Linked DNA regions of Homo sapiens: region 1 is linked to region 2. Evidence: fine-mapped QTL for protein levels in blood plasma. Region 2 holds a variant in brackets. A gene starts in the other region. All regions are shown on their forward strands.

Evidence for each region. A credible set is the group of variants that fine-mapping cannot tell apart. PIP is the posterior inclusion probability: the model's chance that the variant is causal. Protein levels are from antibody-based Olink assays in UK Biobank. Linkage for the fine-mapping came from a reference panel and not from the study's own genotypes, which makes the PIPs less certain.
Region 1: TGFA starts here. The variant in region 2 is the best candidate, but not a certain one, in a credible set for the plasma level of the TGFA protein (UK Biobank, PIP 0.50).

Annotation. Positions count from the first base shown.
Region 1 is chr2:70,551,262-70,556,261 of GRCh38, forward strand. It overlaps TGFA (transforming growth factor alpha), which reads right to left and starts at 2,565. Exons shown (of 6, transcript NM_003236.4): 1 at 2,467-2,565. The coding sequence starts at 2,506. It overlaps LOC124907824 (a long non-coding RNA gene), which reads left to right and starts at 1,447. Exons shown (of 2, transcript XR_007086906.1): 1 at 1,447-2,131. RefSeq lists a silencer at 2,626-2,695.
Region 2 is chr12:111,424,833-111,430,342 of GRCh38, forward strand. The region is part of intron 2 of SH2B3 (SH2B adaptor protein 3); the gene reads left to right. Among named protein-coding and RNA genes, the nearest start is that of SH2B3, 22 kb to the left of the region's middle. RefSeq lists an enhancer at 679-1,254. The variant C/G (reference allele first, on the strand shown) is at 2,413.

The DNA.
Region 1 (5,000 bases), not on the chromosome of region 2:
AAATGCCAAGCCCCCGTGCGGTCTGCCTGCCAGTGATGGAAACCTGACATGGGAGGGCAGCCACCACAGGAACCTGGGTTATGTTTCCAGTGTTGCCATTTGGGCAACAGTCTTCACATTCTCTTACTGAAAACATTAATCAATGCTCAGGTTCCAAGTAATCAAACATTAACCGAGACTCCTAACAGCCAGTTCCTTCTCAGACTAGCCCCACGGAGGTTTCCTAGATCTCGGGTAGCGATGGAACACTGGTTGATTCTCCTGGAACTGCCTTCAACTATTTAAGAAAAATCAGAGGGGAAAGCAGCTTTGAAGGAAATGTGCAAAGTAAAGCTATATGTGGGAGGCAGCAGTTCTAGTAAACGCACAGAACTCACAGCTGTGATTTTTCTTTTAAAGACATATAAATAAAAAGGAGTCCTCACTGGTGTAAATTACTCCTGCCTTTTTTTTTTCTCCACTTTTTTCAACTGCTCACATTTTGGAACTGTGTGAGCAAGTTTTTACATATTGATCAATCTTTTAAAGTTTATACATCATTTTCTTAAAGAAGGAAACAAAGATCAAGCTGAAAAGAACATTCAGGCAAAAGAGAAAAATTACATGATGAATGAATGCAGTCTTTGTGGGCGAGAATTCTGGGATGGGAGTGTGGGGTGTAGGGACAGCTTTCAAACACTTACTCAAATGTGCTTATCTTCATCATTTCCTGCCTCTAATTTTTACCGAATAACCACCTTGAGATCCCAGGAATTCAATAGGAAACTCAATTTAACAACAAGTTCCAGGGTATTCCACATAATCTCTCTTTAAGGCAAAGTCCCAAAAGAGAGATGGGACTATAATGACCACAAGTTAGGTGACTTTTCATATTCACATTCCTTCCACGTTCTTCGACAATCCTGGTCCAGTTACTTACTGTGGACCCTGTGTGCTTTACTTTCCTCTGCTATATAATGAGAATAATATTAACACCTTCTTTATCCGGTTGGTGTGAAAACTGCATGAATAAATGTAAAGCACTTGGACTGTGTCTGACACAGAGTAAAATGCTCGAATAGCATCAGCTGTTATTACTACTACTACTTACTACTATTATTTGCAAAAACATTACAAGGGATAATTATATCCAGGAAGCTTCCCTTGTATTGGTAATGTTTTATTGCTTTTTCTAAAATTTAAATCAGAGCAACAGTCAATACATGCACACAAAAAAGGCAATTCTTCAAAAATGTGGGGGAAAAGCCTCCCATACCCATGTTACCTGCTGGTGAGTTTCAGGTAAGGGTGTAGCTGGGAGCATCCGGTTCCAAGACTGCCTTGTATTTCTCTTACAGGATGCCTCCCCTTCTGCTGCGGTTTTTAATCAGCGTTTCTAGGGCAGGCTTGCAGGCGGGGCCGCGAACCCCCTGTAGTTGTACACGGAGCTGGGTGAGGCTGCGGCTCTGGGCATTTCTGGGGAGGAGTTCCATGGCTTTCCACAGACTCTAACCACCCTGCAGCGAGCCGCATGCTATACGGGTTAAACTCGGGGCATATCGAACGAACAATTCACTTCACGGAAGACTAGCAATAACCAGGACACCTGCGCTATTGATCAGCTATCTCAACACCAGAGAGACCCACCAGCACAAGGGGCAAGAATTGGCCAGGAGGCGCGCGGCGCTGCGCCCTCACCGCGTCCAGACAGACCCTTGAACTTCACCGCCAAAAAACGCACCGCTCCGCAGACCCGACCCGGGAGAGGGGTTTAACTTCCCCTCACCTTTCCCATCCCTCCTTCATTTCCAAGGACATACTCAAAGGAAACTGGCAACACTCGGTCTAGGGTTTCGCTCCTGCCCTCGGCGGACACCGAAACCACTTCTCCCAGGGAAGTTAATTAAAGGAACCATTAATCCGCCCAAAAATCCAAAACCTACCCCCAAAGCTCAAGAGCTCTGAAAAGAGATCGAGGGCGCCTCTGCCGATCTTGAACATCTCTGCTCGTCGCTGGGGCTTAGAGGTGGGCAGGGGGTGCCAAAGGGGCGCAGGCAAGACCCGGCCAGAGGGTTAGACGCCGGCCCCCGTTCCGAGGCGGCCCAGTCTACACGCCAGCGACGCCGGCTGAGCCGGGCTTGGAGGCAGCCAGGTAAGCAGGTAGGTGTAGGCATGTGTCTGAGCAGACACACAGCTGCGGCGGATTAAAGTTCAAGCCCGTTCACACTCCGCTTCCCCTTCCCAGGTGTTCTCACGCACGGCCCAGGCAGCCACTTTCCCGGGGAAGCCTCGGCGCTCGACCGGACAGTCCCCTCTTTGTCATTCTTAATGACTCCCCTTGCCTCCCAGGCGCCAACCCATTGAGACTACTCGCTTCTCTCCACTCTCCCAGGCGGGCGCAGAAACCCCCGGAAAGGGGAACTCGGCGGGGACCGGGGGAAGCAGGGTGTCGCGCGGCGCAGGGGGCGCCGCAGCCGGCGTACGTACCCAGAGCGAACAGGGCGAGCTGTCCAGCCGAGGGGACCATTTTACGGGCGGGCGGGCAGCAGGCTCTCCAGCCTCCTGCCCTACCTGCGGTGCCCGAGTGGCGGAGCGGCGCCGCGGTGCGGGGGAAAAAGACGCAGACTAGGCAGGGCCTGCCCCCGGCGCGGGAGGGCGGAGGGAGGACCGAGCGCCTCTCTGCTGGCACTCGCCCCGCAGCGCTGCCCGCCGGGCGGAAATAGGAAGGCGGCTACCGTCACCTCCTCGCCACTCGGCGACCGGGGCACAGCTGACCCCCCCCTCCCGCCCCGATGGGGGTGCCCCCCTGAGGGCACAGAGGGTGGGGGTTTGGGGTAAGGGGCGGGGACGCTGAGCGCACCGAGCAGGGCGCGGGCTGCTGGGCGGGGCGACCTGGGATCCCAGAGCCTGGCGGCGCGAGCCGGGCACCCGGGCCGACGAAAAGGCAGGAAGCGCCTGACTTCAGACACCACCCCCGACTGCCAGCGCCGTGCGGCAGCGGACTCCAGCGTGCGGGGTCGGCGCCGGCCGCGTAGCCGGATTGTCCTGGGCCGCAGTGGCGGCTTCCAGGCTCTAGGCGGCGGAGCGGAGCCGCCCGGGCACCCGTTACCTACACCGAGGGGCCGCTCCTGGGGCATCTCTGGGGCGGGGAAGGCTGGAGGCTGGGGACGCAGCCAGGAAAGGGACCTGTGAGTTTCGCCGGCCGCTTGCCAAGACTTGGCTCAAGGAAAGTGGTCCCCTGAATCAATGAAGAATTTGTTAAACCAGGTTTCCCACCTGTGCCACAGTTCCCATCAATTCTGGCAACGCCTGCCGCCTTACCTCCCAGGCAGGCCACATCGTTAAGATCAGTCTTCGTACTTCTGGCCTGGGACTGATAAAAAATGGGTCTCTGTGACGAATCTGGTTATATGGCACCACCAGCTGAGGCCAAAAGCCTGCTAGCCTGCCACCAAGTGTACCCCGAAAGAGGGGTGTGTGGGCCCGAGTCACCTGGGTGGTCCTTTCAGGATTTGTGGCTCTGAGGTGGCCCCTGGTGCTGGAATTTGGGGAGGTGGAGGGGATAGAGGGAAGACATTCTGGGCGAAGAGTGGAAGATCCATAGGTTCCTCGGTGACCCTCATGGGGACAGTACACCCGGGAGATTCATGTTCTCCAGGTACCCGGAGCTCACGGACTGACCCTCTTCTCCTGCCTCCTCTGGCCTACGTGCTCCGGGTAGATCCACTTTCCTTGAAGGTGGGGGTGGGGGCTGTTGGGCCTGGGGAATCTTTTGCTGTTTACTTGGGGAGGCTCAGGCTCTCACGGTTGACCTCTGCCCAGTTTGTTTCATGTAAGTAGAGCAACCTAGTTTCAAGAAGGAAGCACCAGGCCATTGGTCTCAACATTTGGGCAGGAAGCACCAGTGTAAATCATTCCTTTCAATAGATTTGTCGGAGCATACTTTGTTCTTTTAGGGTAAATCTTTTCCTTGGTCCACCCCATGCATGTACAAGGCACACATGCACTTCCTTTAGTAGGTTGTCCCTGACTCCCACTTCCTTCAGGTTGATCTTGACCTGCTCTGGTGGTTTCCCTGTCTCCTCCCTAAACTAGTCTGCTTTGGCTACAGAAGGGGAGGAATCAGGGGTTCCCCCACCCTTCTCCTGTTCCCCAGGACTAGAGAAGGACCTGACTCCTTGCTTCCTACTGGAACACGCAAATCAAGCTCACTGTGGCTGAGGGATGGCTGCCCAGCCGGCTGAGGGTCATGTTCAGCAGTTTCTGCTTATCTGTCCCCTACCCCCAAAGTCAGAGGTGGAGGGAAGTAGCAGAATCAAGTCAATTTCCTTCATGATTGGAAAATATTTTAAATCAAGAGGTAACTTGCAGGCCAGGCATGGTGGCTCACACCTGTAATACCATCACTTTGGGAGGCTGAGGTGGGTGGATTGCTTGAGCTCAGGAGTTCGAGACCAGCCTGGGCAACATGGTAAAACCCCCCATTTCTACTAAACATACAAAAAATTAGCCAGACATGGTGGCGTGCGTCTGTAGTCCCAGCTACTTGGGAGGCTGAGGCACGAGAATCACTTGAACCTGGGAGGCAGAGGTTGCAGTGAGCCAAGATTGTGCCACTGCACTCCAGCCTGGATGACAGAACAAGACTCTGTCTCAAAAAAAAAAAAAAAAGAAAAAAAGAGATGGCCGGGCGCGGTGGCTCACGCCTGTAATCCCAGCACTTTGGGAGGCCGAGGCGGGCGGATCACGAGGTCAGGAGATCGAGACCATCCCGGCTAAAACGGTGAAACCCCGTCTCTACTAAAAATACAAAAAAAATTAGCCGGGCGTAGTGGCGGGCGCCTGTAGTCCCAGCTACTTGGGAGGCTGAGGCAGGAGAATGGCGTGAACCCGGGAGGCGGAGCTTGCAGTGAGCCGAGATCCCGCCACTGCACTCCAGCCTGGGCGACAGAGCGAGACTCCGTCTCAAAAAAAAAAAAAAAAAAAAAAAAAGAAAAAAAGAGATAACTTGCCATCTTACA
Region 2 (5,510 bases):
CTGGGAACAGTTTTAAACAAAAGGAAAAGAAAGTTCTGACAACCAGTGGGTGGTGGCGAAGGGCTTAAGCTTTGGATCTGCACTTGCGGTCTGTCACTTAAAGGGTGCCCTGCAGGAGAGGGAGCAGATGTAATCCCAGTGCCAGCCTGGTGGAGGCCCTGCTGCCCAGGGCTGGAAGAGGCTTTGGAGGGAGAGAGCCAAGAGAAGGCAGCTGCCCAGAAGTCTGAGGCCAGGTGGGCTCAGCCCACAGGTGAGCCTCACCTGCAGTTGGGCCCCAGCTCTGCCCCCGACCTGCTGTGTGACCGCGGGCCTGTGGAGCAGGGTGATGGTGTAGCACCTCCAGGGGCACTATGAGGGCTGCGCTGGGAGAGAGCACTCTGTGACTGGGGGTGTGCAAGGGGAGGCCACAGTCTGCCAGGGGTGGGGGTGTGGGTGGAGGAGATGTCTGTGTTTTCCAAGGTCAGGAGAAGGGGAGAAAAGTCCCAGCTTTCTCTGGTCTCAGTGGCCACTGCAGGTGGGCAGCGTGGGCCCTTGGGAGGTGGGAGGGGGCTGCCTTCCCTGGGGTTGGTCAGCAAAGGCCTCTTGGCAGGAGGTGCCGGTCCTGATAGATCTGGGTGAAGGAGTCCCAGGCTGAGGAATGGCAGGTTCACAAGCCCTGCAGTGAGCGTGAACCAGGCAAGTCTGTGGAATAGCCAGGCAGCCTGGGGTTCGAGGGAACAGGGAAAGGTGAGACTACAAAGGTAGTGGAGCTGGATTGCAGAGGCCCTTGTGGGCCACAGTGGGGACTTTAGGTTTTACATTAAGAGCAGTGGGAACAATTGGAGGATTTAGGCCTAGAGGGCCTGAGACACTTGCTGGGGCCACCTGCGGGTGGGAGTGGGTGCAAGGGACCCTCCAGGCTACCTGTGGTCTCCCAGCTCAGGCCCGCGATGGGAGAGTATGACATGATTTCCTCTAGAGACCTCCTTCCCCTGGGCACCGCTGAGCCCCAGGCAGGGCAAGGACAGGGGAGCAGTGTGTTTATGTGGGGGAAAGGTGACATGCCTTTCATCACCCATCATCGGGCTCACGACCGACACTCTTGCAACAAGACAGGTCAGCAAGAGAAAAGCATCACAAAGTTATTGAATCAAAGTTTTATGTGACATGTAGCTTTCAGGAATGAAGACCGAAAGACCCCAGGAAATGGTCTGTCTGGTGTTTAGGTTTGATGGAGCAGGGATAGCTGCGTAAAAATGGGATTGGGATGAAAGGGTGTGATCTACTGAGCTAGACGGAGGCGGGGTCCCAGCAAGGCCTGCTTGCTCCCATTCCTCTTGGCCTCTGCATGGTGTTCCTTCCTCCCAGTGTAGGGCAGGACCTCTCTGGAACTTACAACCTGCCTCCCTCAGACAAGGTAGGTTGGAGAATTTCTCTGTGGATGGCTCCTACCCAGGAAGGTAGGGGAAGGTTAGAGTTATATTTCTAGGTTTTATGGCTGGCTTTCAGGGAGAGGGGTTCTAGATTCTATGACCCACCTTGAGGAAGAATTCTGGTTCCGTTTTTCTTTTATCTTTTTTTTTTTTTTTTTGTTAAGAGAGATGGGGATTTGCTATGTTGCCCAGGCTGGCCTCAAACTCCTGGCCCTAAGTGATCCTGCTGCCTCGGCCTCCCAGTGTTGGGATTACAGGCGTGAGCCACTGTGCCCAGCCGCCTAGTTTCTATGACTCACTTCAGGGGAGAAGGAGGGTGAGAGAGACAGGAAGGCAGAAGGAGGTGAGAGAGACTTTGCTTCTGAGGGCCCCTTCTGAGCCCTTCTAGTCTTCTTTAGTTCAAGTACGTAGCATGCCACAGCACCTTTCTTTGGGGTGTTGTTTTCTGAGCCCCAACATTCATGGCCCTGAATGTGTGCCTCTGTGTGCCAGGTGTTGCCCTAAATTCTTGGACCTTCCCATGAGCTGGAGTTCACTGACCCATTTGACAGATGAGGAAACTGAGGCACTGGGAGAAGCAAAGAGACTTGCCTGGGATCATGAAGTGAAGGGGATCTGAACCCTGAGACAGGAACTCTTGATCCCAAGGGGCCCCTAACCCCAAGCCCTTGGCCCCCTGCTGAACTGGTTCAAACCAGAGAGTGTATAACCCAGCTCCAGGCTGGGCTGGGCCTGAGGTGTGCGTCTCACCTGGCAGTTACAAGAAAAGGAAATTGCACTGGTTGCCACATTTACAACCTAAAGTGGAGAGATTTCACAGAATCCAGACTTCTGGTTTCTCTTATGGAATCCGGGGATCGGCCGGGCACGGTGGCTCATACCTGTAATCCCAGGACTTTGGGAGGCGAAGGCAGATGGATCACTTGAAGTCAGGAGTTCAAGAGCAGCCTGGCCAACATAGTGAAACCCAGTCTCTACTAAAAATACAAAAATTAGCTGG[C/G]CACAGTGACGTGTGCCTATAATCCCAGCTACTCGGGAGGCTGAGGCAGGAGAATCACTTGAGCCCAGGAGGTGGAGGTTGCAGTGAGCTGAGATTGCACCGTTGCACTCCAGCCTGGGCGACAGAGCAAGACTCCATCTCAGGAAAAAAAAAAAAAAAAAAAAAAAAAAAAAATCAGAGGATCTGGCGGTGCCAGGCCGGCATTGGAGGGGGTCCCAGCCTGGCCTGTGCTGCCACTGGTTCAGCAGTAGAGCCTGACGGGGAGGCGACAGCAGTGGGGGCCCTGGGGAAGGAGAAAGATTCCAGAAGCAGCTGCTAGGCTGGAGTAGCTGGCCTTGGGCCCCAGACCTTCCCGGGGAGGTGGGGCTCCCATTTCAAATGGAGCATGCCCAGCCTGCCGGGCCTCAGTTTCCACATATGCCCAGGCATGGATTAGCTGAGATGGTCTTGAAGTCCTGCCAGCCCTGGTGGTTCTGGAGGTTGAGCCTCAGTTTCCCTCATCTGTACAGTGGAGGACATGATGGAGTTCTAGCTGTTGATAAATGCCCTTTAAACCACCATTTATTGGGCTTTCCTTATACAGCAGGCACTTTACTGACCTGGCTTCATTTTATCTTCACAGCAGCCCTGTGAGGGTAGCTGCGCCATTAGGCCCATTTCACAGATGGGGAGACTAGGTCTGAGAGAGCTTAGGTGGCTTTCCCAAGGTCTCACAGCCCCTGTGGCTGAGAGGGGCTTGGAACCTGGGCAGTTGGCTGCCCCTGTGAGCAGTGAGTCCTTAGAAGGACTTACTGTCAGTATTATTGATGGCACTGTTAACTAGGGCCCTGCATGGGTGGGGGCACCTGTTTTGGGCTCTTGGACTAGGAAAAGCTCCTGTGGCCATTTTATCCAATGCCACCATTTTATAGATGCCAACACCGAGGCCTGGAGGGGGCTGGCCAGCGCCCCTCACCTGGCACAGAGGACTCTGCCTGGCACATCCCACCCATGGCCTCTGATGCCCAGCTTGGAGAAGTGGTAGAAGAGGGGCTGGGGGATGCCTCAGGGGGACTTAGCCCTCAGCCCTGAGCCCCCCGCTGCATCACAGGCCTGAGTGCCCAGGAGGCAGTGGTCTGGGTAGGAGTGGCTGCGACTCGGGGGTAAATGTGCTTCAGAGCCATCCCCACTCATCCCCTTTCGAGCCAGGTGTCCCTGGTGTGTGACTTGGCCTTGCTGGGCCTCAGTTTTCTGTAAAATGGGAAGTGTCATGGGGGGCAGGCTACGGTAAGCACTGATAGGGCAGGTGAGGGGCAGCCTCGGGCCCACCCTTCTGGCAGGAGACATTTGGGGCACCCAGAAGCCCTGGAACAAGGCCACTCTGACCTTGATTTTGGGAGCACAAAGTCCCCCCAAGAGATAGCACAGGAGCCCGGGTGTCTGATGAGTGACCCATCCCTTGGGGGCCTCAGTTCCTGGGTGTGCCTGGGTCTGCAGGGGAGGCAGAGGCACAGGTGGGCAGCTCCCTCTGGGTGGGCTGTGACCCTGCCTGGGCACAGGAGGGCCGTGCCCGTCCGTCCTTGCCGTGATTCTTCCAGGTGGCACCGCCCTCACACCTCCTTTACAGAGGAGGAAACTGAGACCCGGGGAGGCCACAGGAGTCGGGCTCTGGGCCCAGAGCCTGGGCGGGGATGCAGGAGCCACCCCCATGCCTCCGGGTGTGGGAAAGGGGAAGCAGAAAGAAAGGGACGTCCGCCGGAGGCCTGGCGGTTTCCTCTCGGGGCAGGAGTGCGAGGAGGAGGAGGAGGAGGAGGAGGAGGAGGAAGAGGAGGAGGAGGAGGAGGAGGGACGGCAGGAAGCCGCCTCGGGCTCTGACAGGCGCGGCCCTGGCCTGCCCCTGCCCTTCTGAGCCTGTGACCCGGGGGAAGGCACTTTGCCCTCCCTGTGCCTCAGTTTACTCAAGTAAAAATAGCTGAATGATGGCTCTGGCCCCAGGATCAACTGAGTGCTGTCTGGGAAGCACCTAGAGCTGTGCCCAACACAGCCAGTGTTCGCTGGGGCCTGCAAGGCTTTGCTGCTGCAGGCATCACTGGCGTTGTCATTTTTATTTATTATTTATTTATTTAGAGACAGAGTCTCGCTCTGTCGCCCAGGTTAGAGCAGAGTGGTGTGATTTTGGCTCACTGCAACCACCGCCTCCAGGGTTCAAGCAATTCTCCTGCCTCAGCCTCCCGAGTAGCTGGGATTACAGGCGCCCACCACCACACTCCGCTAATTTTTCTGTATTATTAGTAGAGACGCGGTTTCGCCATGTTGGCCAGGCTGGTCTCGAACTCCTGACCTCAGGCTGTCCATCTGCCTCGGCCTCCCAAAGTGCTAGGATTACAGGCGTGAGCTACCGCGCCCGGCCCATTTTTATTAATTGGTTTTCATGTGACAGGCACTGTGTCCGCCACATCCCATGGAATCCTTATCACAAACCCCGGAGGTGGGGACAGTGATGAAGCCATTTCACAGCCAAGAAAACTAGGCACAGAGAGGTCCAGAAACTTGCCCGAGGCCCCAGAGCTGGTAGGTGGCCAAGGCAGGAAATGAGAGTCCCTGGTGGGTCTGCCAAGGCCGGGGGGCACCAGGGGCAGGGGGTTTGTGTTTAGGCCCCAGAACAGGCAGAGAGAAAGCACCCACCCTCCACCGTCAGAACGAGCCTGTATCCCGGCAAGCAGGGCAGACTGAGCCCTGGTCTTGGCAGGCAGGCAGAGCTCAGGTCCTGGCGGGCACACAGGCTTAAGAAGCCGGTTTTTTCCTGGGCCCACGTCTCCTGGGGGACCAGCGGCAGAGGCTCCTGGGGTAGGAACGGAGGTCCCATCCTCACTCTGTCCTGGGCTGCCATGTGACCCAGGTAGGTCCCAGTCCTCTCTGAGCTATGAAGTGGGTGCCTGCAGTGGCCTTCTGGGAGTGATGGGGAAGGCGGAGGGGGTTGGGCAGGGCTCCTGCGGCCCCAGCCACACACACTGCCGCCCCATCTGCCCCCTTATTGGGGTTCCATGCAAAATCGTTTTTGAAAAAGTGCTTTGCCGCTTAGAAGAAACCCCCGACCGCGCTGAAACCACGGGGGCAGA